4 linked regions of the Homo sapiens genome follow. The protein of the gene in region 1 interacts with the protein of each later gene in a pairwise test. Each region holds a gene or a part of one and is shown on either strand. Other genes may lie near its edges.

What was found.
Region 2: the proteins of TSPAN2 (region 1) and FKBP7 interact in binary tests that used the Homo sapiens proteins (3 or more experiments, as listed by UniProt).
Region 3: the proteins of TSPAN2 (region 1) and SLC30A8 interact in binary tests that used the Homo sapiens proteins (3 or more experiments, as listed by UniProt).
Region 4: the proteins of TSPAN2 (region 1) and VSIR interact in binary tests that used the Homo sapiens proteins (3 or more experiments, as listed by UniProt).

What each region holds. Positions count from the first base shown.
Region 1 is NC_000001.11:115,046,178-115,052,454, reverse strand, and holds the end of TSPAN2 (tetraspanin-2), read left to right. Parts: intron 1-1,899; coding exon 1,900-1,965; 3' UTR 1,966-4,444; downstream 4,445-6,277. UniProt on the Homo sapiens protein: May play a role in signalling in oligodendrocytes in the early stages of their terminal differentiation into myelin-forming glia and may also function in stabilizing the mature sheath.
Region 2 is NC_000002.12:178,462,288-178,470,008, reverse strand, and holds the end of FKBP7 (peptidyl-prolyl cis-trans isomerase FKBP7 isoform a precursor), read left to right. Parts: intron 1-223; coding exon 224-357; intron 358-4,077; coding exon 4,078-4,239; 3' UTR 4,240-6,345; downstream 6,346-7,721. UniProt on the Homo sapiens protein: PPIases accelerate the folding of proteins during protein synthesis.
Region 3 is NC_000008.11:117,136,576-117,145,859, forward strand, and holds part of SLC30A8 (proton-coupled zinc antiporter SLC30A8), read left to right. Parts: intron 1-9,284. UniProt on the Homo sapiens protein: Proton-coupled zinc ion antiporter mediating the entry of zinc into the lumen of pancreatic beta cell secretory granules, thereby regulating insulin secretion.
Region 4 is NC_000010.11:71,770,521-71,777,806, reverse strand, and holds the start of VSIR (V-type immunoglobulin domain-containing suppressor of T-cell activation precursor), read left to right. Parts: upstream 1-4,286; 5' UTR 4,287-4,367; coding exon 4,368-4,449; intron 4,450-7,286. Other genes in the region: CDH23 (cadherin-23 isoform 1 precursor), read right to left, coding at 1-127.

The sequences.
Region 1 (6,277 bases):
AGATTGGATTTGGAAGGCGGGTTAAAGGATGATTTCCATTGTCCAGGGGTTGGATGATAATAGCTAATGCTAAGATGGCACTTAGTCTCTAGCCCTCTATGTAGATTAATTCATGGCCTAAACTAAGGCAAGGGCTGTGGGAATTGTGAGGAAATCAGTGAATTTGCAGTTATCAGGGGACACACAAGCGCCTTCCCCTTTTCTGTATTTAGAGCACAGAGGGGTGGAGAAGTGGCTGGAAATACTCTGCTGAGGCCCTCCAAATCAAGGGACATTTCTCAGGTCCTCCCCACCTGCTCTGGGGATAGCCTGGCTGCAGTTCTGCAGCTCCCCAAAGGACAGTCCTGAGGCAGGTCTGAGCGTGTGCTGCATAATGGAGAGTTTCACAATCTCAGCAAATGAGCAGCCTAGAAGCATTCACCCCTGACTCGTGTCGGCAGTAGGCTGAGACTGAAGGAGTCTCACTGAAACCAGGATGGGTAGGGATTACATCCAACCTTATGGCAATGATAAAGGGGAAATGCCCATAGTGAGCCTATCTTGAGTCGGCACCCCCAGGTTTCTTCGTTAGTTCTTTTCTCTGTAAAGTGAGAGTTGCACAATGTAATCAGCTAACTAAAAGTGCATTGGGTGTCGCCCGTGCTACACACTGGTACTGAGTCCTGTCATCCAGAAGCTTGAAATCCTGTTCCTGGCCATGCCCTTACCTGCTTCTGCCCCTCCCTTTTCAAAACAACTGATCATTCATATCTTATTGAATTTAGCACTTACAGATCCTAGTCTGACTTAGGATGGAATTGAGGAGAGAACCAGAAAGTTATAGTACCCATTTTTTAAAATAAGCATTGACAGTAGTTTATGGAATGGTGCCCACAGATAGGGTTCCATGGGCTCTACAAAATTGTAGGGGAAATAATAGCGGACAAGAAGACTCTTTGGCATTCTTCTATTCAAACCATGGAAGTGGATATTGATTTCACTCAAGTATTTAACTTCTCAGAGAACTATCCAAAAGGTAAAAGTCAATAATACCATAGTATAAACCCTTTAGTTTATGTTTTGCTAAAACTATTGAATTAAACAGTGAAGCATCGTTTGCCCTTAAAAATGGACTGAGAATGAAGTGATGCTCCACTTTTTTTTTCTTTTTTTGTGAGACAGGGTCTCTGTCACCAGGGAGTGAAGTGGTGCAATCACAGCTCACTGCAGCCTCGACCTCCTGGGCTCAATAATCCTCCCGCCTCAGCTTGCCAAGCACCTGGGACTGCAGGGACACACCACCATGCTCAGCTAATTTTTGTATTTTTTGTAGTGACAGGGTTTCACCATGTTTCCCAGGCTGGTCTAGAACTCCTGAGCTCAAGCGATCCTCCCACCACAGCCTCCCAAAGTGCTGGGATTGCAGGCATGAGCCACTGCACCCAGCTGATACTCCATTTTTGGATGTATGGACACTGTTGTAAAAAATCAGAGCTTTTCCAGCAATAGAAAATTATTTAGACCACAAGCATATCTAAACAACAAGTGGTTATGGACACAGTTTTCAAAATAAACATATAAAAGAGATCTAGGATTAACCTGAAATATAAAATTCCAAAGCCAGTATTGTGTCTGTCTTTCACAGGTATTCAGAACGGTTCTATAATTCTGAAGCAGGGTAGGTTCTTTTAAAGCAGAGCCTTGTTACTTGTTAACAATAATAATACACATTTAAACAGTTAATCTAGAATTATTTACCCCATAGCCAACCTTAAGTAACATACTAAAATGTCATTTGTGACTGGTAATTATTGGTTATAATTATTTGTTAACTTGAGTTAGACACCCAGGAAGTCTGCTGAACTTTTTACCTATCAGTACCCGTTTCAAAGTCACTGATGAGTGTTTCTTCTGTTTCAGATCTTTGGCATGATATTCAGCATGGTCCTCTGCTGTGCGATACGAAACTCACGAGATGTGATATGAAGCTACTTCTACATGAAAATTGCAATCTAAAGCTTTCATACCAAATGTCACAGGAGCTGTCTCCCAGCTCATTTTTAACACTGAAATGACATTAGGATCTAAAATAATTTGCTGTCAATTGTACATTTGCATGAGTACGTATGTTTGGCTCATTACTGGTTTACCCCTTGAGTGAATGCCTGTTTATGATGACTGAGAGCATATTCATGTGTGATCTGCGTGTTTCTGGAATATGCTTTATACGTAATGAAATCTGTTTGCTGGGAATTCCTGATTCTTGTTATATAAGAAGAACAACCTATTTCGCTCCCAGAAAAAAAAGATCAAAGAGCTTTCAGAAACTTTGAGAACTTGGCTATTTAGAAAAAGTGATAATGGGTCAGTTTCTCAGACTGTAGCCATTGAAAATTAGATGCAGAGAATTCAGAGATTTCTTCTTAATGGAAGTAATAAGCTGTAAGAATTGAGAGATCACAATGGAGTGTTAAAACTGACTGTGTCTAAGTTGGGTGTAAGGGTTTCCTGGGTTTTTTTATATACATGCTCTCCCCAGAATACAGTAAACCACAGTTTTAGAACTAAACACATCTGTAAAACTAAATATAGCATGGAAAATCCAATTTGAATAAGTCATGCTTTCCTAGAATTTAAAAATAAAAAAGTCTTCCTCTGGAAAGAGAAGTCACACAGACAATCATGTGCCCTATAAAAGTGAGTGTTTATAGGACTAAAAAACTTTTAACAACTTTTTAAGGAAATATTTTTGTTCTTATACAAAAACATGTAAATATTGCTTTATTACTTTCATTTTCTGACCCTGCTGTAAACTACTGCAACCCTCACATCCTCAAAGGGACTTTTATGTCAAACTCTTCTGTTTCTCCAAATATAAGGAAAAAAGACTAAAGCAAGAGATCTGGCAGTTGAAAATTGTGGGAAAGAGAATTTGTATGGGCACTGTATCTATGAAATACCTCATAACTTACGTTTACATGTTTTCCTAACTTTTTGTATTTTTCTTGTATAGCCACCTAGAGAATTCTTCATAGATTAAGAACTACAGTTTTCACCACTTAACATAAGTAAAACAAAGTCCTTCATAATTTAACCATTAGCATCTTTGGCCAAACCAAAATAAAGAAAAGCATCTTCTCCTAGTTGTGTGTGGGCAACAGAAACAAGTTAAGGAAACAAAAATACTTATATATACACAGAACAAAAATAATGTTCTTTTTATGCAAATCCCCTGTGAAAATAAAATTTTCAATGTTTTTTTGGTCTTAACGCTTCATTTTAACTTAGTAAACCCAAATTTAGGATTTACATTGGCAAATTTTTCAGTGATTTTTAACGTGTTACATTTAGTAAACCATAGATTTTTTAAAAACTACATTTTGTAAGGCCACACATAAGTGAAAATACGGAAGGCTTTGGAAACCCCCAGATGAACTTCTATACATGTGAAAACACAAGTCTTTGAGTGTGCACTAAAAGTGTCACACTCCCAAAAAACTCACAAAACATTTTGCTAAAAAGATATGACTGCTTGAAATAGTCTCTCTCCCATGGAGAACCACATTTCTCTTTCTGCCATACTTGCTACTGCTACTGATTTTGGAGGAAATTTTTCTAGAAGAACAAAGGTCATATTTGAGGCAAGCTAAAAACTTAATTATACATGGCTACTTTACTGTGTCTGTAGCTAAAGAAAAATTATTTTACAAAAATTACTTCATGAAATATAGTTTGTACCCCAGTAGTTGAGAAATGTGACCTTTTAGGCAAAGAACAGGCAGTCCATCTCTCTTAGCTTTAGTTTATCTCTCTGCCTGAAGACAGGAAACAGGCCCAAGTGCATACTCGGGTTCTTTCCAACTCAGAATCATCTCTGATTCCACAAAAGTGAGTTTAGTTTCCTATCTGAATTAACAACTTTAAAGGAGACTATAATAGTTAAAAGTGGAAGAATAGAAATAAATAAATTTAAAATGAAATTAATTAAAGTAGAAGAGAAGGGTTCTGTTCCATGTACGATTAATGTGCCCCTTTTGGAGATAAGCTTTCCAAAATATGCGTATGAGTAAAATTAGAGAATTCCACCACTAAGCAACAATAGATTTTATATGTGTGTGTGGATATATATACACACACACACAGAAAGATGAATATATATATATATATATCTGTATAGACACACATATAATATATATAGATATATAATCCCTATATATCTTGAATCTACAAATATCTTTATATGTATATAATTTGAATATATACATGTATGTATATACAGATGTGTGTGTATATATATATATACATACACATATACATAAATTTTCAGCTATTTCTGTTCCCCTGAACTAATTTGAGATTAGACCCAAACATGCTTTTAAATGTCTCATGCCAAGGCACTGAATTAAGACTTCTTAATGTTGAAATATTTTAAGTGATTTCATATTAAATTTTCTATATACTGAAATTGCTTGTTTGATTTATCTTAAAGTCCTATTATATCTTTCTACAAACCTTCACGCAACTTATCTAAATGTCAAACTACCAATCAAATAATGTGATTAAAAAAAAACAGAGTGGTAACCCTTCTATAATTTGCTATTGGTAGTTGACTTAAAAGCAACACCCTAAGGACTCTTACTGCATATACAGTCATCTGTCAGTATTCATAGAAGAATGGTTCCAGGACCCCCTGTGGATACCAAAATCCACAGATGTCCAAGTCCCTTGTATAAAATTGTGTAGTATTTGCATGTAGCCTATGCATATCCTCTCATATACTTTATTTTTTTAATTTTTATTTTTTTATTGTTACATAATAGTTGTACATACTTTTGGGATATATGGGATATTTTGATATTAGCATACAATGTGTAATAACCACATCAGGGTAATTGGGATATCTATTACCTGAAACATTTATCATTTCTTTGTATTGGGAACATTCCAGATCTTCTAGGCCTTTTAAAACATATAATAAATTGTTGTTAACTATAGTCACCTTATTGTGCTACCAAATATTAGAACTTATTCATTTTATCTAACTGTATTTTTGTACCCAGTAATCAATCCCTCTTCATCCCTCCCTGCCTGCTACCCTTTCCAGCCTCTGGTAACCACCATTGTATTTACTACCTCCATGAGATCAATTTTTATAGCTCCCACATATGACTGAGAACATGATTCATCTTGATGATATTTGTCTTTCTGTGCCTGGCTTATATCACTTAATATCCTCCAATTCTATGATGTTGCTGCAATTGACAGGATTTTATTCATTATTCAGCCATTGTCATGGCTGAATAATATTTCATCGTGTATATATAGCACATTTTCTTTATCCATCTGTTGATGGACTCTTGGGTTAATTCTGTATCTTGGCTATTGTGAATAGTGCTGCAATAAATATGAACATGCAGACATCTCTTTGATATACTGATTTTCTTTCTTTTGGATATATACCCAGCAGTAGGATTGCTGAGTCATATGGTAGTTTTCTGAGGAACCTCCAAACTGTTTTGCATAGTGGCTGTTGATTGTTTCCTTTGTTGTGCAGAAACTTTTTAGCTTGATGTAATCCTATTTGTCAATTTTTACTTTGGTTGTCTGTGCTTTTGAGGTTTTACCCCAAAAATATTTGCCCACACCAGTTTCCTGAAGCATTTTCCCAGTGTTTTCTTCTAGTAGTTTCATAGTTTCAGGTCTTATATTTAAGTCTTTAATACATTTGAATTTTGTGTAGGGTGAGAAATAGGGGTCTGGTCTCATTCTTCTGCATGTAGATAACCAGTTTTCTCAGCACTATTTGTTGAAGAGACTGTTCTTTCCCCAGTGTAAGTTCTTGGTGCCTTTGTCAAAAGTGAGTTAGCTGTAAATACATGGATTTATTTCTGGGTTCTCTATTCTGTTCCATTGGTCTATGTGTTTGTTTTTATGCCAATACCATGCTGTTTTGGTTACTATAGTTTTGCGGTATACTTTGAAGGAAGGTAGTGTGATGCCTCCAGCTTTTATTCTTTTTGCCAACGATTGCTTTGACTATTCAGGAGTTTTTGTGTGTGTGTGGTTCCATGTGAATTTTAGCATTTTTTTTCTATTTTTGTGAAAAAATGTCATTGGTATTTTGATAAGGATTGCATTGAATCTGTGGAACACTTTGGGTAGTATGGTCATTTTAACAATATCAAGTCTTCCAACCCATGAACATGGAATATTTTTCCATTTTTTTCTGTCCTCTTCAATTTATTTCATTAACATTTCATAGCTTTCATTATAGAGACCTTTCACTTCTTTGGTTAAA
Region 2 (7,721 bases), on another chromosome or scaffold:
TTCCTAAAAAAGTATTTATAAAAAAAAGAGAAAAAAAAACAAAAAAGAAAACTATTGAAAAGCCGAAAAAAGTTATAAAAGATGAGAAAAAATTAAAAATTGTGAGTATTCAGATAGCAATTCTTATCAACATGAAATAATATAATATGGTTATGGCAGTTCATGAATAGATATTTGAACTATATCTTTACATAAGTTAAACTGTTAAAATTTATACCCTTAGCAGAAGGCAAGATTCCACCGGATGCTACATTGATTTTTGAGATTGAACTTTATGCTGTGACCAAAGGACCACGGAGCATTGAGACATTTAAACAAATAGACATGGACAATGACAGGCAGCTCTCTAAAGCCGAGGTAATTCAAACCAATTTCATGTGTATAGTCTAATTTTTTTATCACAGTTTAAATACATCTGTGTTACAACTATTACTTTTTAGGTCTAGCTAGCATGGGCTCTGATCACTGCTTTTATAGAGCTGGTCACTAAAAAATAATCTAAGCGCTTAGAAAAAGCTCTAAGCTTTTTCAGTATAAACCTTGTGAGTCATCCTGTTCAATTGCCTTTCTCCCTGCAAGAGAGTCATTAAAATCCCGAATTATTTGTCTCTACAGTGCTCTTCCAGTTTCTAGATTACACTAGCATATCTCTTTTTCAGACAGCACTGTAAGAATTTGCAACAGGGCAAATAATTCACGCCTCATAGGATGATGAAAAGAGCTAGCAAGGGTCTGAATTGAGTGGGCTAGAAAGTTGGTAAACAGGAGCCAGAAGTTCAGCCAGCTAGCGTCTGTATCTCAGCCTTGTAATAAAGATCTTGTAATAATAATGATAATTGGGCTGGGCATGTGGCTCATGCCTATAATCTCAACACTTTGAGAGGCCGAGGTGGGAGGATTGCTTGAGCCCAGGAGTTCAAGACCAGCCTGGGCAACACAGGGAGACCCCCGTCTCTACAAAAGATTTAATAAATTAGCCAGGCATGGTGGTGCATACCTGTGGTCCCAGCTACTCAGGAGGCTGAGAGGTAGGAGGATCGCTTGAGCCCAGGAGGTTGGGGCTGCAGTGAGCTGTGATCATGCCACTGCACTCCAGCCTGGAAGATAGACTGAGACCTTGCCTCCAAAAAAAAAAAAAAGATAATAATAGATAACATTTATTTTATACTTTTAGTACCAGGTACTATTTATAAGCACATAAGTATGTGAACTTATGTAATCTTCATGATAGTTTATGGGGCAGACACTATTGTCATCATCTTCGCTTTTAGATGGGGAAAATAATAATCAGGTTAATCAGCCAAAAATCACACAGTAGTAAGGGGCAAAACCTGGGCAATCTGGCTTCATGACTGTTCTTACATTTCAATTTTTTAAATTTTTCTTAGAGACAGGGTCTTTCTCTGTTGCCCATGCCAGGGTGCAGTGAAGTGATCATAGCTCACTGCACCCTTAAACCCCTGGGCTCAAGCGATCCCCGCAGCATGCCACCATACCCAGCTAATTTTTTTTTTTTTTTTAAGAGATGGAGTCTCACTACATTGCCCAGGCTAGTCTTGAACTCCTGGCCTCAAGTGATTCTCCTTCTTCAGCCTCCCAAAGTGCTGGGATTACAGGTGTGAACCATCATGCCCAGCCCACTACTATATTTTTAACTTTGGGCCTAGACTGCTTCTTTCAGAGAAAATCATGAATGTTTCAAGTCTAATACTATTTATTGAATTCTAATGTCTTACTTAGTCCCACTGACGATACTCCTGCTTAAAATTAGTAAACCAGCTGTCTCCCCTCTTAACTAGTTAGGAGACATTTAAAAATGTGTAACTCTACCACATAAGTAAGTAGTAAAAGCTAACTAGGTTGATTTCAAGTAATAAAAATAAGTCTTTTTCTCTGTTTCTTTTTCATCTCCCTCTCCAATCCTTTCCCCACCCAGTTCAACTTCTTACACCAGGATATTAGTAATGACTTTCCCTTCAGGCATCTTGGTTGGCCAACAGTGGAAGAAGGAGAAGGGAACATGTCCTGTTCTTAAGAAGAAGGGCAGTTACCGGGGTGGCAAATGGTTCCCAAAGTGTACTTCTCTATTGACTCCTTATCACCCTTTTTTAGAGTGAATAGCAGCTGCAGATGAATTCGCATAGTACCCAAGAGCTCAGCCTATGCACACAGACCACTCATTATCACAGGCACACCAAGAGCCACGTTCTGCAGTATGAATACTCCTCAGTAAGACATTAGATGATCTTAAGTTCTTTTCTGGAAAATAAAAATAGAGAAAATCCAAAATAGTAATCTACTTATCTACAATTTCCCCAGATGTCTATGTGATATCAGCTGCTTTATTGCCAGATGGATGAGAGTGATTTTCACTAACTTGAATAACAATAGCTGTCTTTTATTGATGGCCATAATCATTATTCTAATCCTCATATCAATCCTACAATATAGATACTTACTTATCTCCTTTTACAGATGACAAAACTGAGGTTCAGAGAGGTTAATTTGCAGAAGACCACACAGCAAATCCAAGACAAAGCCTGAAGTAGAAACACGAACTAAAAAAACAAAAACAAAAACAAACAAACAAAAAACTTTATTCATTGTCAGAAAGATTAAGTAAACTATTTCATCAGTGTACAGGAAGGAACATTTAAAAAAGAAAAAGAAAAACTTTCTTTAATATTAATAAAGACGGAAAGGACGGGGGAAATACAGTATTTTATTAAATTAAAAAGTGGAAATAGTGTGGAACCCATTACTAGCAAAATTAAGGTCATGTTCTTACCCACTGTCTTTTTGTACCTCTGTACTGTAGTTTACTGGAAAAGGAGTCAAGTTTAAGCATCAGCAATATTGGTTATGTAAAAATAATTTGACTTACTTAGAAACTGAGAAATATTTGAAGGTATTAAAAATTGTTTACCCCTACATAGGATTGCTAAGCTTTGGCTGGAAGAAAAAAATGTGTCTGCCTCATGTAGGACCAAAGTCCCATTTGAGAACAGTTGATGTATCCTTCATTAAGGTCCACTGATTGCTCTAAAATAAAGTCAACTTGCAATGGGTTGACCCTGGGATATGTATTGCTAAAAACCTCTCAAACTCTAGCTTTCAAAAATACTCTTGCCTCTATAATGCCAGCCTTACTGAACATTACCTCCAGATGATTGTGCATTGCTTTCTTTAGTTATTATAAGGATTAGTGCTTTCCAAAGGAAATACAATTGTTACACATATAATTTTAAAATTTTTATAGTCACATCTTAAAAAGTAAAAAGATACAGGTGAAATTAATTTTAATGTTATATCTTCACTCAATATATCTATAATATTGCCATTTCAATATGAGATCGATGTAAAATTATCAATGAGATAACTTTTTGAAGTCTTCAAAATCTGTTATATATTTTATATTTATAGTAACATATCTCATTTTGATCTAGCCATGTTTCAAGTGCTCATTAGTCACATGTGGCTAGTGGCTACTATATTGGACAATACTTTTAATGTGTGTTTGCATATAGAAATTTTATATAATTAGTGAATACTTCAGGATTCTTTATTTGACATTATTAAAGAGATTATTATAGTTATGTAGACTTGGAGGAGAGCTATAGAAGCATAGAAAAACTTAAAATACTAAATTTTATTTCAAACCCCATGGTTGTGTTTTATTGATTATACAACATATTCATTAGTTTTAGAGATTATAGAAATGCCAATTGGGTTTCTTTCACTAATGGCAGTCATGCGTGATTTTCCTTTGATAATAGGAACAGCATGGATTATTAGAAAGCATTTAGTTTCAACAAAATTCAGTTTAAATATTAATCTTCGAGTATGTACCACTAACCATCTATCATCTTAGGGAAAACTAATTTGAAGACCTGTTTCTCTCCAAAACATTGCTTCAAAGAATAAGAAAAATAAAACCTCAAATAGCTTTTCATACTGTTGTATCATTTACTGTAAGTAATCTTGCACATGAGTTTCATTATTATAACTATTCCTTAAAGTTACTGGAAATTCACTGTGATACCTTTTAATTAAAGGAATGTTATTTTGGCCTTCCAGATAAACCTCTACTTGCAAAGGGAATTTGAAAAAGATGAGAAGCCACGTGACAAGTCATATCAGGATGCAGTTTTAGAAGATATTTTTAAGAAGAATGACCATGATGGTGATGGCTTCATTTCTCCCAAGGAATACAATGTATACCAACACGATGAACTATAGCATATTTGTATTTCTACTTTTTTTTTTTAGCTATTTACTGTACTTTATGTATAAAACAAAGTCACTTTTCTCCAAGTTGTATTTGCTATTTTTCCCCTATGAGAAGATATTTTGATCTCCCCAATACATTGATTTTGGTATAATAAATGTGAGGCTGTTTTGCAAACTTAACTTGCAGGAATGGTATGACTGTGTTTCCTACTGCTTTATTCTGTAAACAAGAATTGTAGCACCATGAAACAGACCTCTGGGTCCCAGTGGGCATTTTTTCCCCTTTCAGGATGTAGGAGGACATGTATAGTATGTCAAAAACTGCAAGCTTTTCCCAACTTTAACCTTACCAGCATGTTAATATCCAGTTTTTTTATAGTTTAAAAGTTAAAGTGCCTCATATTTTGAAAATATCCATTAAGGACCCAGGAATTAGCATTTCACTTGTTTATACATTTTTATAACATTATGAAGACGATATAAAAATCCTAGAACTGAAGAGTCTTCCTTTGGTATATGTGCAGGAAGATAGTTGTATATCTCTGTTCCACAAAGAACGCAACACAGTCTCTAAACTTTTTGGTGTAAGCTTCTAGCCTTGGGTATTTTCCAGTGGGGAATGTTTAAAAATATTTGACCAAACCAAAGACTTTTTGCCTCTTATAGCAAGCATAAAGACTGTACTGCCTGGCTTTTGTATTCCTTCAGACATTATTGTAAATGTGCAACTCCTCTTCCCTCTTGTAAACCTTTATAAGATGTCTGCCACCCCAAGCTTTTGTCTTGATAGTTTTAAATTGATGCCATGAAATTTCTTAGTTTTCGTTCCCTTTCTCTAGTTATCTCTTTCCTTATGTCACCTCATTTCCCATCATTCTTGTCACTAATGATGAATGATCATTACAAATTGGTATGCTGTCAAATTTTGATAAATGTGCCAAACAAAGGAGGATATACAGTGCCATGGCAATTTTGTGTCATGGTCAAGTTATGATATCATATGACTTGAGAATAGTATGTAAGAGATGCTGTAGAAGATCACGTTGGTACCAAAGAAAGGGCACATGTCTATCGGAACATAGATTTTGCATACTGCATGGTATGGTCAGGCTTTGTGTCCACACCCAAATCTCATCTTGAAATTATAATCCCCATAATTTCCATAATCCCCACATGTCAATGGAGAGACCAGGTGGAGGTAACTGAATCATGGGGGTGGTTTTCCCCGTGCTGTTCTCATGCAATCTGATGGTTTTATAAGTGTTTGGTAGTTCCTCTTGCATTCATTCTCCCACCCGCCACCTTGTGAAGAAAGTCCTTGCTTCCCCGCCTTCCACCATGATTGTAAGCTTCCTGAGGCCTCCCCAGCCATGGGGAACCATGAGTCAATTTAACCTCTTTCCTTTACAAATTACCCAGTCTGGGGCAGTTCTTTATAGCAGTGTGAAAATGGACTACTACACTGCATATATAGGAAAGTATGGTCAGACAGTAAATAGCTCTGTTCAAAATAATTGAGTTCCAAACAAGTAAAGTTTTTTCTACCTTCTGAAACTTGCTCTTTCCAAACCATTGTTCATCCTTTAACTTCTTTACACTATCAAAAATTCTATTTAAAAATAGAGGGCTTTCAGATGAGTACATACAAAAACAAACAAAAGTATACATAGGGGTAACACAACCATGAGATTAGTAAATAATACATATGGCTAGCACATAATTTGACACCTTATAAAACAAGAATCTGTACTATCTTTTCCTTCCTCCCAATATTTCTTCATTTCTATGCTCAATTTTCTAATACTTTTTCACATGCTTAATCATTTACTCTTTCATCGCCTTCCCTCAAAAAAACCTGCTCCGTTGAAGTAAACTAAGTAACTCAATATTCTTTATTTTGGTTTGGAACCTGTCTCAATTTTTTGTATCCATATTAAGAAGTCACCCTATAATCTAAACTTTGTAATTCTAATTTTTTTGTCCCATTATCATACAAAGTGCTTTTAAACTTGTTTTTAAAAAATGACAGATAATGCCACATGAATAGGAAGATGATTCATTCTAAAACTTGTATTTACATAATTAAAAATAAATTTATAATCATTCTACATACAATACAGTGTACAAGTATTTCATATATCTGCATGATTGCCTTATGCCTTCATATGCATATATGTGGCATTGAGTGCTGTGACTACATTTTGAGTTCTAGAATTTTTTTTTTTTTTTTTTTTTGCAGGTGCAAGATTTAATAGAGTGAAATAGAGTGAAAACAGAGCTCCCATACAAGGAGGCGACCCAAAGGGGGTTGCCATTGCTGGCTGGAATGCCTGGATTTATATCCTGATCCTTGTCCCTCCCGCTGTGCTCTCAGGCAATAGATGATTGGCTATTTCTTTACCTCCTGTTTTTGCCTAATTAGCATTTTAGTGAGCTCTCTGATTGGTTGGGTGTGAGCTAAGTTGCAAGCCCCATGTTTAAAGATGGATGTAGTTACCTTCCCAGCTAGGCTTAGGGATTCTTAGTCGGCCTAGGAAATCCAGCTAGTCCTCTCAGTCCCCACTCTCAACAGGAAAACCCAAGTGCTATTGGGGAGGTTGGCCGATGACTGCTCTAACTGCTTCCTGCTGAACTGGGGCATAGGAGGGGTTGTGCAGCTGAGATTTCCTTGGGAGGGGTGCCTTCGATGTCATTAACACCAGAGCATGGGCTGGGAGACCGGTCCGGGGGTCTACGGTGGATCTTAGTCATGGACTGCATCTGGGGCTCCATTTGATGAACCATTTGTAGTTTTACAGTTTCAATTCACCTTGGAGGTCCCTTCGTGGTCGCCAAAGTGTTACCGGGGGTCCTTGCTCCCAGAGCTCCCAAGAAGGTGGTGGGCGACTTCCAAAATGGCGGCAGGCCACTTCCAAGATGGTGGCAAGCCCCGTGTTCTCTGACCTGGGGTTGTTGGCCTCACGGATTCCAAGGAATGGAATCTTGGGCCATGCAGTGAGTGTTACAGCTCTATTAGAAGTCATGGGTCACAGAAAAGAACCGTGGAACCCAGTGACTAGTGTTCAGCTCAATTAGGACGAACCCAGGCACTTAGCCGTGCAGGAACAATGGCAAGCCTTTAGCCTGATCAGGAGCGGCAATGGGCGCCTCACTGGATCAGGAGCACAGCGGACACCCTGCCAGATTCAGAGGGATGGGAGTCAGCAGCGGGTCTGTGACGGTGGCAAACAGCAGTGGTGGACGGCGAGCAAAAGCTCAGCTCGAGCCTTAACAAACATGGACCAGAAGAGTGCAGTTGCAAGATTTAAGACAGTGAAATAAAGTGAAAACAGAGCTCCCATTCAAGGAGGGACCCAAAGGGGGTTGCCTTGAGTTCTAGAATTTTAACATTTTATTCATTTTATAATTATTTTAATAAAGGTAAATAGTAATTTAGGTTGTTTGTGTATGAAAAATTCAGATTTCTCAGCAGAGTAGATTAAAAAGATCTT
Region 3 (9,284 bases), on another chromosome or scaffold:
AACAAAGAATCTAGCAATCTCACATTAGAAGAATTATTTTTCTTAGAAAATAATATTAGATATGATGTATTGAGGTTATTAACATAAAAAACAAAGCCTTGTGGTAAGTCAGGCAGAAGTTTTGGACAAAAAATTGTTAACCCTATGGATACTATCAATAGAGCATCTCCACATTACTGAAATAACAATATTTCCCTTCTTATTAACATAGACTATTAGCATTTTGTTGCACAAATAAGCCAACCACTTATAGTTACAAAGTCTCATTCACCCCATAAATAGGTATGGTTTTCAGGACACAGTGTTTATAAGAATTGTCAAACTCATTTGTATTTTCTTGTCAAGGGAAATAAATTAAATCTGGAAGAGATTATTTATCTCGATCCCTCATTTTACCATGTAGGAAACTGAATGCCAGATAGAACAAATGCCTTTCTTGAGGTCAGAATAAATGTGTTTCTTGAGGGCAGATGGCTAATTACAACAGAACTGGGCTGTGGACCCAGGCCCCCTTCTTGTTAATTTAGTGTTCCCCTTCTCCGTCTACATCTCCTGTACCCATACATGCACCATGTGGGCTCCTGAATCCTTAATCTATCTCCTCCTTAGGTCACATGTCCCTGAATTCCCTCACTTACTCACTTCTTCCCCCACCTCTACCAATCTATCTCATTTATTTTGTTCTGTCTCTATTAGTTGTGGATAACTTTATCCCCTGATATTCCTCCTCTTTTCTCCTTCTACCTCTTTTTCTTTCTACTTTCTATTATCAGCTTTCTATTTAAATGGTTACTGGCTGTTAAGAAACTTACTCTGAAGAAAACTTTATTATCTAATTCCACAAATGGAGTGTTCCATTTATCTATGGCTGTGCAACAAACTACCCCAAGATGTAGTGGCTTAAACAACAACTATTTTATTACGATTCTCTGGGTCAGGATTTGGGCAGCATTCCATGTGAATTAGTTGGAATAGAAGGCTGCATTCTGCTGGTATCTGGGCTAGGCTAGAAGGTTTAAGATGGCTTCACTCACATGACTGAGATCTTTGTGTTGGCTTTTGCCTGGGGCGGGGGTCTTAATTCTTCTTCCCATGGCTTCTCTCCCTGTATGATGTCTCACTTTATCTGGTTAGCCTGGAATTCCTTATGTGACAGTCCAGAGTAGCAAGAGAGCAATAGTGGAAGCTGACCATTCTCAGATAGCTTAAGCCCAGAACTGGCACAGTATCATTTTTATCACAATTTATGGGTTAAAGCAAGTCCCAAGTCTCAGATTCCATGGGTGAGGCAATAGATTCTATCTCTTGATTGCATGTGCATATTGGATGACAGGAATTGCTGGAGGTAATCTTTACAGGCATTTTACCACAGGAAGTAGTAATATTGGACCCAGTAGGTGCCATGAACCATATTTTTTTACCCTCTCCATTCTCTCCAAATCTGTTTCATTGGTGGGATTCTCTGGGCTTTGGGTTCATTGTAGCAAAAAAAAAAAAAAAAAAAAGAAAAAGAAAAAAAAAAGTCGTGTAAAGTTGAACTACAACACGAAAAACAATCAATGTTTTTCTTGGTGCTAGGTGGAAGGGATCAAGTTTCTCTTTTCCCCAAGCCATATGTTGAAGAAGTGCAGAGGAAGTAAGGGCAGGAATAGATGGTAGAGGTAAACTGCTAGAACCTTTACAACAACTATTTAACTGCTAAAAATTATAAAAAAGAAATGAAAATCTCTGGAAGTTGTCTTAAGGGCATGCAGAAAATTAATAATTATTTATTCAAGAAAATCTAAATCTCAGTAAGAAGTGAGCGTCTATGGCATTTGAGCCAAGATCTGCTCCATTAACCTCTGTTCTTCCCAAGCTCAGTATGATGAGAGCTCAACTCTGAGTGGATGTAGCCAAAAGACTGGGCTCCCTCTCCTCCCAGCTTCCAGTTAAAGATCATAGTTCACCCCTAGAGCAAAAGGCTGTTGGAATCTCTTATTGTCCCAGCTTCAGGTTGCAGAAATTCTATTCATTGTAGACAGGACCAAGAGGACTATGGTTTCCTTCCTCTACCCAGCCTCCTCTCATAGGGTATAATCTCTAGCCCAGGAGCAGCAAGGTCCTGAATATCCCTGCCCTGGATCACTCATAGTGTATAGGATGTATTCCAGGAGGCATAAGCAAAAAAGACTAGGGACTACGATCCGTATTCAGTGCTCCACTTGTGGAGCAAGAGTATTGCTCCAGGAGAAGTAGGTCACTGTCTCTTCTGCCAGCTCTGGTGCAGTGGTGTAAAGGTACTACTCATAGGAGAGGCAGGCCATAAGAATAGAGGGCTATGTATCTTTCCCTTAGAAGACTGATGATACATAAGCTGGAATTTTATTTGTAAGACAGCATAGGGTATTTCAAGCATAGGGACACTGTTGAAAACAATGAAGATTCTTCTGGTGGACAATTAAGAGTAGGCTTGTTGCTTCATGATAGCAACAAGATAGTGGCAGACCAGCTAGAAGTTAAGCAAAGACAGGCAGAAAAAGAGGTAAAAAATGCCCTCTTGGATTTGGCACTAGCCACAAAATTTGGCCTCAAATATTACCCCTATAAAGAAGCCTGTTATAGATTGAATGTTTATGTCCCCCACAATTATATGTTGAAGCACAAATGCCAGTGTGGCTGTATTTGGAGATAGGGCCTCTAAGGAAGTAATTAAGGTTAATTGGGGTTATAAGAGTGGGGTCCTGATCTGACAGAATTAATGTTCTTATAAGAAGAGACTCCAGATAGCTCACTCTCTCTCTCTTTTTGGGTGCACACACTAAGGAAAGACCACGCGAGGAAGTAACGAAAAGGCAAGCATCTATTAGCCAGAAAGAGAACCCTCACCAGTGAATTTGCTAGCAGCTTGATTATGGACTTCCATCCTCTGGAGCTGTGAGAAAATACATTTTTGTTGTTTAAGCCACACAGTCTGTGGTATGTTGTTATAGTAGCTGAAGCAGACAAATTTAATTGGATCAGATTGTTGGTCAATTCATACCTCAGGGTATTATTGAAAACCATAGAGCAACAATTCAGCAAACAATTAAGAAGGCCAAAATCTGGGTGTGATACCAACACAGGCAGAACAATCACTTAACAGTGAGATAGTGGAAAGAAACAGTCAAAGTGAACACTACTAAAATGATTATTATCCCTTGGAAATGGGAGAGGATAAGAAAGACTGCATCTACCCAATGATGCACCTTCTGAGGAATGGCAACAGAGGCTGCGCATGCAGGGAAAGTCAGACAACATCTGGTAAAAAAAAAAAAAAAAAAAGTAGAAACAGTCCAGGTGTTGTATTTAGAATTTGAATATTTCAAAACAGCTATTATAACTAGGTTAAAAGAATTAAAGAAAATCAAAGAACAAAGAATTAAAGATAGATATGATTTAAAATGTCTCATAAAATTGAGAATATCAATGAAGAGTTAGAAATTATTTTTTAAAAAAGAACCAGATGAAAATTCTGAAGTTGAAAAGTACAATAAATGAAATTAAAAATTCACTAGAGGGGTTCAACAGTAGAGCTGTACTCATAGAAGCTGGCAGAAGAAAGAATCACTGAACTTGAAGATAGATTGGAAGATATTATGCAACATGAAAAACAGAGAAAATAGAATGAAGTAAAAAAATCAACAGAGCCTCAGAGAAATGTGGTACATTGTTAAATGCATTAACATATTCATAATAAGAGGGCCAGAAGGAGAGAGAAAAAGGAGCAGAAAAACAGTCAAAGAAATAGTGGCCCCAAACTTCTGAAGTTTGTTGAATATTAATCTACACATTCATGATGGTCAACAAACTCTAAGAAGAATCAAGCAAATAGATTTACATGCTTGCACATTACAGTAAAACTATTAAAAGCAAAACACAAATAAAAAACCTTGAAAGCAGCAAGAGAAAAAAGAAAAGATTCATTATGTATGAGAGCATCCTGATCAGATTAACAGCCAACTTCTACCAGAAGCAAAGGAGGATGGCAGTGAGATGACATTTAAAGCTGTAAAAGAAAAAGAAATTCCTATCAACCAATAATCTTACATCTACCTAAACTATATTCCTAAAATAAAGATGAAATAAAGACAAACAAAATCTAAGATAATTTGTTGCTGGATTCACTTTACAAAAATCAGTAAAGAAAGCAATAGTAAAGGAAGAAATATTAAAGAAAACAAATGACACCAGATATTAAGTTGAATCATTCCTAAAAAATAATAGCACCAATAAAGGTAATAATGTGGGTAATTATAAAAGACAAATGATTTGTTCTCCTTTTTCCTCTTAACAGATTTAATAGTAAACTGCATGAAATAAAATGTATATAATCTTAGATGAAATGGATAAATTCATAGAAAGACACCGACTACCATATGAACTTAAGAAGAAATAGAAAATCTGATAAGTAAAGATATTGAATTATTAATAAATTTCATAAAACCTTACACAAAGAAAGCCCAAGTCCAGATGTCCTCACTGGTGATTTCTACCAAAATTTAAAATAGAATTAATATTAACTCATCACAAATTCTTCCCCAAAATAGAAGAGGTGTAAATACACTTCCCAACTCATTTTATGAGGTCAATATTCTGCTGATAGCAAAAAAGGAGGAAATATCACAGGAAAATAAAACTACAGAACAATATCCCTTATGAATACAGATGCAGTAATCCTTGAAAAGACTAATGAACTGAATCCAGCAACATATAAAATTACGAACAATGATAAAATGGGATTTATCCCAGTAATGCAAGCTTAATTTAACATCTGAAATACAAAGTGATACAACATATTAATAGGATACAGAACAAAGCTCACATGATTATCTCACTAGATGCAGAAAACGAATGGACAAAATTCAACACCCTTTAATTATATAAACACCTGTGAAACTAGAAATAGAACGAAACTTCTTCAAAAGCATCCATGAAAAACTTGCAGCTCATATCATAATTTTTTTCAATAGGTTTTTTGGGAACAGGTGGTGTTTGGTTACATGGATAAGCTCTTTAGTGGTGATTTCTGAGATTTTGAAGCACCCATCACCTGAGCAGTGTACACTGTACCAATGTGCAGTCTTTTATCATAATTATGGTGAAAGCCTGAAAACTTTCCCCTAAAATCAGGTACAAGATAAGGATGTCCACTTCAATGAGTTCTACTCAACGTGGTACTGTGTGTTCTAGCCAGAGCAATTGGGAAGACAACAAAATAAAAGACATTCAGACTGGAAATAATTTAATAATCTGTGCATTCATCTTGTTCCAGTTACACTTTGAAGTGGTTTATATGAATTAGCTAAAAATCTCTCAAGCAGCCTATGAGAGTGATGCTATCATTATTCCTATTTTCAGATGGGGAAATTGAGGCACAGAGAGGTTAAGTAATTTTCTTACAGTCATATGACTAGTGAGTGGTAAGGGTGGGAGTTCAACTGAGGTGGTGGGTTGCCAGAGCCCAAGCTCTCAGCCTCTATACTGCACTGCCTGCCACTCAGCCCCATCTTGGGAATTGGCATGCCCTTCTCCAGGTTACTCTAACCAGAAACCAACAAGTCATCTTTGAGTTGCACCTCTCTATTATTCCCCCTTAACTACTGTTATTTATTAGCAAGTCCTATTGACTCCACCTCCCAAAAGTCCCTCAAATATGACTACTTCTTTCTATTTTTATTGTCACCACGTGGGTCAAAGCCACCAATGTGTTGGCTGTAGTCACCTCCTAAGGGTTTCTATGTTTTGATCTTTTACACTCTAGTCTTCCAGGCAGCACCCAAAGTGATCATTTTAGAAATGTGAACCATGTAATGTTACTTCCCAGCTCAAAACTTTCCAAATTTTTCCTTTTAGACCTTGAATTAAATTAAACTCTTTATAATGGCCTGAAGTGTTCTGCAAAATCTGATCCCTTTTTTGACCTCTTTATATTTCACTCTTTCTTTACGCCACAGGGGACACCTATGTAGTTTTCTTTCTGTTCAAGACAAGCACTTGAACAAGAAAATCCTTCTTGTCTTTGGGCATTTGCTCCAGCAATGCCCTCTACTTGGGATAGCCTTCACTCACATAGGTTTTCTCCTGGTAATTCTATAACTTGCTGCTGAGATATCACCTCCACAGCGGTGCCTTTCCTTCCCACACAATTTAAGGTAGTTCATCTTCCCTTGCCTTCTCACCATTCATCATACTATATAGCCTCTGTTACTATTGATTCATTTACTCTTTGTCTCCCTCTACTAAAATACAAGATCTTTAAAGAAGGAACTTTGTTTTTCTCATACAACATGGTATCATTAACACTTCTGATGGTGCAGGCCCTTTTTAGGTATGCAGTAAATATTTAATGATGAATGAATGAAATGTTAGACATTCATGGTGAGGCTGAAGCTTTTATCTCCCCTTCTAACAGGAATAGTGATTTGAGGTTCTTGGGAAAATTGATATGAAAGTACAAAAGCAAAGTGATTTTTATGTGCTCAACATTTGAAATAAGAGGATAAAAAAATACAAATTTTACCAACATTATTTTGGAGATAGAAGCAAAGTTCTACCACTCAACAAAAAAACATTAAAAAATAAAAGCTTCTCCAAGATTGCAAAAATAAAGTCCCATTTTCTAAATCCCATTTTTGGAGATGAAATCAAAGTTTTAGAGTACTGGCATCAAATTTTCTAATATTTCTGTACTTTTTCATCTCTTTTTCTCCGTCTTTTTTCTCTTTGATGCTACAGTAAATTTCTTTGGCCTATTATTCCTAATTTTTAAAGCTTTGGCCATATTTGAATGCATGGGAATCTTCCAGGATTTATTCATTAACAGCAGATTCACAATTCAGTGTTTGTTGCATCATAGCATTTGCTTTTTATAACTTTCTTCTTAAAATAATACTTAAAATTCACATCATTGTTCTGATCAAGAGCCTGTTCTGCATCTAGAGATACTTAGATGACTTGACTTTAATGAGATGATAAGGAATATATCTTAACTTTGGTTTTTAACTTCTTTGAGGTCACAGGCTCTTTTGGGAGCCAAGTGAAGACTGTGTACTCTTGCCTCTCCCATAAAACACACACACACACACACACACACACACACACTCACACATGAACACATCGTATACAATTCCAATGGACCTTATGAAGCCCACTTTTGGATTTCTGGCTTAGTTCTTCAAGGAGCAGTCTCAGCTCAGAGTATATCCATATTTGTTAACCTTAGAACCCAAGACAGGGAAGCAGTACACAAAAGTAAAAATTGCCCACATTTTCACACTTTCCTCCTTGTGGCATTGCTCAGGGGCTTTTCTCCAGGTTTGATTCTTGCTTTGGACTGGCTTCTGAGCTGCTCCAGGATAAATTATCTCTCCTGGTCACTGACTACTTGGCTTTCCCTGGTCATAAGATTCATGAGAAACATAAAATAAAGCAATGCTTCATATGACCACAGCATACCAGGCAGTTCCAGAACAATTGGTGAGCCTGCTTTGCTCATGCTGTCTTCTCAGCCCAAGGAAACAGTAAATCTCAACAATGTGTTCAAGTTAGTACTCAGGTTCCTCTGAGATGATGGCCACTGGGGACCCAAACTACCAAATTCTGTGGTTATTATTAGGATATTATACATAACAAAAGCAAAAGTCTACTCATTTAAGATATAAATACTTTATTTGTTACTTTCCAAATTGTTCTTATTCCAACTAAGAAGATTGTTTGGAACTACTCAAAATCCTGAGTGCTATTCACATAACTGATAAAAAACCAATGTTGTAAATTGGCTTTAATGTATATTCCAAAGCCAGTTTGGCAATATATGTCAAAATCCTTAGAAATGTAGGTACCTTTTGACCAAGTAATTTCCCCTTTAAGATTCCACTTTAAGGAGATAATATATTGAGCAAAGATTAATTATAAGGATGTGAATCATAGTAGTGCCTATATGAGCAAATAATTGGAAAAAAATGAGTTGTCCAATAATTTAAAAATATTAGTTAATTATGCTATGATATAGCTATATTAAATATATACTGCCTTCCATATTTTAAACATAATGATATAGAAAATTTTATAAATGGAGAAAATATTAACAATATTGATAGCTGAGAATCAGGTTCAGAATCTGTATCTTTGGTAGGATCCTCTTGTGATGCAATCATCTTATTCACATCCATTCTAGCGCTTCCCCACTGAGGAGCAGCCCTGTGGTTTAGGTAGAATTTTCCCTATTCTCAGCTCTATGAGTCAGCATGGCTGGGTTTTGCCAGTCTTCTGAGTATAATAATGCCTAAGTCAATCAGCTCATCCATATTCCCCTGGCTATAGTGGTTGTTTCTCATTTAGCTAAATCCACATGCACATCAAGACTGTTGTGTAGCAGTTTGAGAGGGGATAATCTCTCTATGTATCTGTTAAAAAAGAAATACATAGTTTGATTACTTTTGGCAACCATCCCACTACCATGGGGAAGATCAGCTTGAGGTTGAAGAATAGCTGAGAGCCACAGAGAAATGAATCTGGAGACCTCGTCAAAAAGTATCTGAAACCTGGCCCCTCTAGATGTTTTCAGTTGCAGAACCAATAATTCTTATTTATTAATTATTCTAGCAAGAGTCTTGTTTTCTGTGCTTATAACCTAAAGCATCCTAATTAATATGGAATCTAATTATGTAAAAAATATATTCATATATTACAAAGCTACACAATAAAATATCAATAATAATTGTCTCTTGGAGAGGATTACCAGTTATTTTTCCCTCTACTTTGTGATTTTTTTTTGTAATCCAGATTTTCTATAATGAATATATATTATTTTATTCAGAAAAATCAAATATAATAATAGAGTCAGAATAATAATTGTCATCTAAGCCAAAACCATCAGACTTTTAATTGTGAATGGTGATAGGCTAAATGAAATGAAGTGAAAGCTAATATATTGTTAGTTTTGTTTGTTTGTTTGTTATTACCTTTCAGAGTCAGGAATGCAAAGTTCTTAATTCCAAGACTCTTATTTATTTCTGTACATGAGTTTATTTTTAAAAATTTAAAAATCTGATTAGTTCAAGATCCATGGATTTTGACATCTGCCTTCCTGACTCAATATTAGGACACCTAAAATTGGTTTTAGGCATGACAGAAGAAACACTGAGCTTGGGATTCCCACTCCAAAATTTCCTGGATATTTGACCTCAGGCAATTACTTAAACTTCCTGAACCTTAGTTACTTCAGCCAAGAAATATGGGGTTGCAGTTAAGTGAAATAAGCC
Region 4 (7,286 bases), on another chromosome or scaffold:
GGATGGTGATGAGGCTGGTGTTGAGCGTGTCTGGGCCCTCATCCAGCAGCACCTCATAGTGGGGCTGCTGGAACATGGGCGCGTTATCATTCTCATCCACAATGGTCACGTACACGTGCGTGGTGGCCTGTGGAAAAGAGTGGGTCACGTCCTTGGTCAGGTGGCCAGAGGGACCAAGGTGGATCCAGATGGCTGTTCTCCTGGGCTGAACTCACTCCATGTGACTCAAACAGAAAGGGCAAGGAGAAGAAAGCAGGGGGTGGGTCACAGGCTGGTAGAGAGAGAAAGCTCAAAAACTCCACCAAAAGCCAAGTAAGGTAACTGCTCTGTCCAAGATGGCACTGGCACCACCACTCCTATGTCTGCGACCCCCAGCAGACATCACTAATCAATCACAGAACTGCTGAGGCCAGATGCAAACTTGGGATCCTTGTTAGCACAGTGGTCTAGTGATTAAGACTGGCATATGGGATGAACCCTGGTAGTCACCCCAGCTCAGAGCTTTACGAGGGCCTGTGTCTTATTGAGCCTATATGTCCTGCCAGACTACAAGAGGCAAGAATGTGAGGCACTCGGCCCAATGCCATATTTAACCTTCATCTATTGTTCATGTAAATGAAAGAAATACATATTTTCAGCATTTCCAGAAGGAGGACATTGGGTTTGTGGCAATTTCGTGGGCAGAACTTGTTGACCTGTGAAAAATAAGACTCACAGAACATAACTTCATTCCAAGAACAGCTTCTACAACATACTCTCCTGTGATCGGCCATCTCTGCCAATGCTTGAGTCAATTGGACCACAAGTAATATTCAGCTAATCAGAACTCGGCAATCAGCACTCAAGAATCAACTAGAAATGGTTCTTGCTCCTGCTTCCTGCCTTTCTCCACCTGGGAAGATGTCCCCTGTGGACTAACTGCCTTACCCTGGCTCCCTTGCTATCCAGCTTCCTGCTGGGTGTGGCCAATGGGAGGCCCTGGCTGAAGATGAAAGCAGTGGGGAGAAAGAGGCGGGGGTGTTTCTTCCACACTCCCTCCATTCCTCACTGCGGTTCTGCCCATGGCTGTGTTTCTCCTGCTTGGGGACAGGGGTCCCCCTTTCATAGCACCAGCTTTCACTGGGCTCCAGAACATCACTTCCTCTTCTTTCCCTTTGGACATGTGAGTGGTAGTGGCTTCCTGTGGTTGGTGCTAGTCTCTGGGTGCTTTACCAGCCTTCCTAAACAGTCCCTGTATTAAACTCTCTTCAGTTGAACCCTTTCTGAGTGTGCCATCTGTTTCCTGCCAGGACCCTAACTAATACAAATCATAATGAGTGACTAATATAAAATAATAAGGTGTTAATCACTGCAAAGGTGTCTGGGTAGAGAGAACGTGACTAGGCCATTGCCAGGCCAGAGAACAGAAAGCAGGTGGTACAGACAACTCAATGTAGGCAATTTGCATATGGTTTTTTCCTTGGGACTGGCTGGCTCTGGAGCTACCACTGGAAGAATGGACAGATGGGCAGGGGATCTGGACCCAAGAAGGCTGTCACTGCCCCTGAGGAGGCAATGATTCCTCTGATATGCAGCTCTGGATCTTGGGGGTGGAGGGCATTGGGTGTTTGCTGAAACGGTTTCCAAAGCAGATAGGGTTGGCAGCCTTGAAAAGGAGCTGCGTGGCCTTGGGCAGGTCACATCCCCTCTCTGGACCTTTTCTGTCTGTTTAATAAAGGACCTGGCTTGATTTCTAAAGTTGTTTCTAGCTCAGGGAGTTTGGGAGGTGAGTTTGGGAATGTGGGAAATGTCAGCATCCCCTCCCCAACAGGGAGGCTGGAATTCAGCCCCTTTCCTGCAATGTGGTGCTCTTGTATTCTTGCCGGCAAGTAAGGGGACTCAGGAAGGCTCAAGGCTGGGCCCCTCACCAGTAGAGAGTACTCACAGCTGCCTCCAGGCCCTGCAGAGCCACAAGATGGACATGGTGGCTTTCCTTGACAGTCATCTTTATTCGAATATTTGGGGCCTTCACCACTATTTTTAATGAAAACAAGCACAAACACATGATGGAGTGTGCAGGCTGCAGGGGCTGGGAGTGGAGAGTTTGAACAGAGTTGGGCCTTGGAGCCCCTCCTGCTCTGAGACCAGGTCTGGGCTTGGGGAGGGAAGGTGGGTTTGACTTCCTCTGGTCTCGGAGGGAGGAGAAAGTCAGTGCTCCAAAGGCCCTCTCAGCTGAGCCCTTCCTGTCCTGCCCTGGTGTTGAGGAAACAGTGCTTGAGGTTTCTGGACCATGGTCCTTGGGCAATGCCTGTGTCTCACCCTGATGCAACCCCAGGAGGCTCAGTGGTGGGCAGTGTGGTAGGGAGAAAGGAAGTGAAAAGGGGGGAGGGAACTGGGCCCAGCTCAGAGGCTCTATCCCCCTGGGGAAGGGGTTGGCAGGGCAATTGCTCCCCTTTCTCTAATTCCAGGCCCTCCCCGGCTGCTAGGCCCTGGGGAAGAGGGAGTCTGGTTTCAAGGGTGTCCTGAGCAAAGCCAGTCCAGGAAGGGTTGAGATGGGGTGGTGCTCTAGGATCTTGCCCTTAAGGGACCCCCCTCACTTGCCAGAGGATGTCAGGGTGAGAAGGGCCCGGTGTCCACCTGATCTCAGTTGGCTTTGTACCTCCCCTGGTGGAAGGGAGCTCATGCTATGCCAGCAGGAAGGGCCCTGGGCTGCCTTCCAAGGTGGGGTCACAAGGCCAGGAGCATGCCCAAGGACCTGGGTTATGTCCTGCCAGCCTCTGGGGCTCCCATCCTGGGGAGTTCACTGGCTCCAGGGGGACTGGGCCTGCACAAGTTCACTTAGTAATAACATGATGCCTCAGCCTTCCTCTGTTGTAGCCTTCCCTGCCCTTAGAGCAAGGGCTAAGGGCCTCCAGAGAGCCCGTGACTTGGATCAGGCCACCCACAAGGCCCCCAGGACTCCTGGCTCCCATTGAGTCCTGATACCCTGGTTCCTGACCCAGTCAGACTCTGAGTGTCCTCTGCCTCTCAGCCTAGGAGTCACCTATTAACCCAAGATCCCTAAAGTGCCAGAAAAACCCCTGGAAGCTTCAGCTAGACTGGGGTAAACTGAGTAAAATGGCTGTGCTCTTCCACTCCTGTGATCCCTGGTCCTGGCCACGATCACCTCTGCTCCTCCATCACACAATCACTCACTCACTCATTGGTTTGTCCATTCAGATAAAAGTGCAGTAAAACCTTCTCCACGCCCAGCTTTGTGCTAGGGTCTCAGAAACATCAGAGAGAGGTTTGTAGTTTCGCTCTGGAGGGCAGAACAGCCGGAAGAAGAACCAACTGCTGGTTATCTCAGGCTGGAGGTGGTAGCTGAAGGGGGTGTGGACAGTAAGGATTTGCCGGGAAAAAGGAAGGGTCAGGACATTTCGTGAAGTGGGAGGACTTGAGCTGAGCCCTGAGGGATGAGAAGAATTAGGAGGGGAGAGACATTCCAGTGGTGCCAGCAGTGCTGGGTGTGGGTGCAAGAGCAGAGGCACTAGAAGTTAGGGTGCATCAGAGTGTCCTGCAGATATCCAGGCACCAGGGAGGGAGGGCGGGTGCACAGCCAGGCGGACAGCTGAGGCCTCTGCCGGAGGGGAGCTTGCAGGATGTGCTGTGGGGCACGCCAACAGGTGTTGCCTGCATATCTGTGTGTGTCCCGGGGTAGGGATGTGCTGATCTTGGCGTGTAGTCCTGCACCTGTTCTGTGTGTGTGTGTGTGTGTGTGTGTGTGTGTGTGTGTGCGCGCGCGCATGCACTCAGGGTGCCTCAGGCTCTGAATCTACAGTTAAACTGGCTCCAGCTTGCCTAGCTCTTCACAATGTCAGATTTCATTCATTCACTCATTTACTCACTCATTCCACAGCTGGGAGTGCCTACCACATACCAAGCCCTGGTCTGGCTGGAGGATGTAGGGTACAAGTCTCTGTCCCCAGATCACTCAAAGGCTGGTGGCTGAGGGCAGATGCAAGCCATGGTAACGTCTATCACGCTGTTAGAGGTAGATCTACTTCTTAGGCTGCGCAGCAATAATAATTTCTCTCCAAAAGGACTGGGGGACGGTAGAACGGGCTTTAAACTGCCGATCAAGTGGAGCTGACTCGCTGGGACGCACGCTGGCTCCCCACCCACGGGGCCGGCCTCCGGGAAGCCCCTCCCACGCGGCCCTCGGAGAGGCAGTTCCCCCACACGGCCCCCCGGGGGCGCTGCGCGAAGGGGGCGGGTGCCTGGAGCACGGCGCTGGGGCCGCCCGCAGCGCTCACTCGCTCGCACTCAGTCGCGGGAGGCTTCCCCGCGCCGGCCGCGTCCCGCCCGCTCCCCGGCACCAGAAGTTCCTCTGCGCGTCCGACGGCGACATGGGCGTCCCCACGGCCCTGGAGGCCGGCAGCTGGCGCTGGGGATCCCTGCTCTTCGCTCTCTTCCTGGCTGCGTCCCTAGGTAAGGTCGGGGGAGGCGGGGCGCTGGGAAAAAGCTGGGAGAAGACAGCAGACTGGAGTGGGAACTGTGGGATGGGGGCGTCCTGGGGGCCCTCTCAGCCTGTGTGACCGTGCACCCCACTCCACCCACCGCCCAGAGGCTGCTGGGACCCCTAGGCAGGGTGCAGTGGCAACTGTGCCAAGTGCCCCAGCTAGGCATCGGGCACATCTGCATGCTCTGACAGCTGCCCAAGTGGCAGGCAGGGCTGTCCCCTGAGGGCTGCCTGTCCAGCCCTTCCCTGCCCAGAGAACCCAGGGCACAGGTAGCTTCTGCAAAGAAGGAGAGGCACAGGGTGGGGGCGGTCAGTGTGTTCTGGTGGATATCACTGGCTTTTGACAGCTGGCATCTTTCTGCCCCTCTAGTCTCAGGGCTCTAGTGTTGCAGAGGACACAGAGGGCGTGGTATGCTCAGCCAGTGCCCCATGCCCTGGTGAAACCCCTGGCTGAGCCTTGGTGGGCACTGGGCACTGGTCACGGTGGGTCCACTTTCAGACACAGAGGCAGCACTGCCCACCTGGTCCCTATTCTAAGGGTCTGATGGCCCAGGAATAAGTGGTCAGCTGATTCCTGCCATCCTAGCAAGGCTGCCACTCAGGGACCAGTGTGGAGTACTGGGGAGGATGTGGGACACTCTTCAGCTCAGCTATGAGCCCCTTCTGGGTCCCTGGATAAATTACGGCATCTCTCTGGCCTCAGTTTCCTCAGCTCAAACACAGAAGCCCACACAGGGAAGCACCATTTTCCCCTTCCAAAGTCCAGACTGTCAGCATGTTCAGATAGTATCCTGGCCCCAACACAGGGGCTCCCGGGCTGGGGGCAGAGGCCCTGGTACCCATGGCCTGGTTGCCTAGTTCTTGCCTGCCCAGAGCTGAAGAGGCTGGATCTCTTCAAAGAGCCTGTGGAACCAAACTTTATAGGGAGGGCCCAGGGAAAGTATGAGTCATGCAGGGACTCGGAGGGAGGCAGGAGGGAGGTGGAGGGCTTGGCACAGGGACCCAGTGGGCAGGATGGAATAGAAGGAGAGGGTGATAGGATAAGAGGGAGAGGAGGAGGCTGAACCTGGAAGATACCTTAGCAACCTGGGTGCCCACAGGCAGCTGGCTATCTCAGCACTTGGAGGCTGGCCTGGGCCTCTGAGGAGGAGGAGGGCTCCACATGTCACAGACACAGCTGCCCTAAGCCCCAGGGTGGATGCTTCTCAAGGTGACAGTCAGAGGGAGGAGGAGAATGGGAGGTGGAATGGACAGTCTCAGCACCAAGGCCATGGCTCATGGCAGGGCATGGCTTCCAGAAGGAACAGAGGATGGTGGCAGGCAGGCAAGCCAGCATCCCACCTGTCATGGGCCACCTGCCCTGCACTGCCCTCCCTGGTGGCCCTGTGAGACCCTTCCTGCTTTCTTGCCCACTTCCTGCCCTCACTTGGCTGGGCTGCCCTCTGTTCAGCAGCCCCAATTTGAGAAACATTTCTAGAGATCCAGGGCACAGGGACCCAGCTTGCAGAGCACCCAGTAGCAGAGAGGCCCCAAGAGGAGCTCAGGACGCCTTCCCCTATATTGCTTATATGGCCAGGGGCCTTTACTCCCAGAGGTCTTGGCTACTCAAACAACATGGTATACTAAAGGGTCATCTCTTCCTGGGCCCAGCACAGGGAGATGATTTAGGCTGGCTGCAGCTTTCCACTGAAAGGAGCCAGAAGCATTTGAATTGCTCTGGGACCTCAGGATTCTGAACTGTGACATGGACACACTATAATAGATATTCACCCAACTCCCTAGGACAGTGTGCACTGAGGGAGATAGCAGATGGGAGGCCTGGTTGCAGGCATGGTCAGCAGGATCTGTAAGTTGAGAAGATTGATCACCAGCCTGCCGAGGTGCTGGGTTGCCCTGGGTATGTTGCCCAAGGTCAAAGCCTTTATGCCAGGGAAAGTGAGATAGAGTGGCCGGGGCCAGCCTGTTCTCCAGCTCTTGGGGTTGGGCCAGCACTGAGGAGAATGGTAGTGATGAATGTGGTGTTCAGAAGCCCAGGAAACACCAAAGATACCCCTTTCCTGGGCCTGACTCAGGGTGAGATGGGTGGAGAGGTACACTTAGGGACCAGGACCCAGCAGATCTCAAGGGTAGCAGAGCCTCTTCTTCCCCACAGACATTCCCAGGACCCGAGGCAGTTACTGTCCTTGCCCTGTCCTCACAGGCTGACTCAGGACTCCCAACCTCTGGGACTAGCACATTTAAGTGCACTGGGGCTAGGGACGAGAGACCCCATCTTCTCCTTCATAGCAAACCAGGCTGCAGGGCCTTGTTGAGTAACCCAGTGCTGCAAGCCTCTGACGCAGCAATGGTCAGCTCTTAGGAAATCCACAACCCACTGCCCAGAGGCTCTGGAGTAGAGAGGAACAGCCTTGAGGCCAGTCCCTGGCATGAGGGGTCATCTACCCAATGCCAGGGACACCCAAGGGCCAGCAATACTGGGAGTCCCTTGCTGAGCTGTACTAGTTGTTCATGCTTCCACCCAAGCAGGGCAAAGGTTCCGCTGGGGTCTGACCTTCCTGGGAGAGGGTGGTCCAGGCAGGAGTGTGCTGCTGAGACGCTAAAGGGGTCACCTCCCTATCCGCACACAGTGTATGGGGTGTTAGGCCTGAGCAGATGAAAGGAAGAAAGGGATCCTCAAGGAGAACCCGTTGGCAGTGAGCGAGCCCCACATACCAAACTTGAGGCCCCAGGCTTTAGCCAACCAATGACCCAGGGTCAGTCTGGTCTCCCAGGGGAGGGTGGGCCAGGGATCAGCACTGTGGCTTCC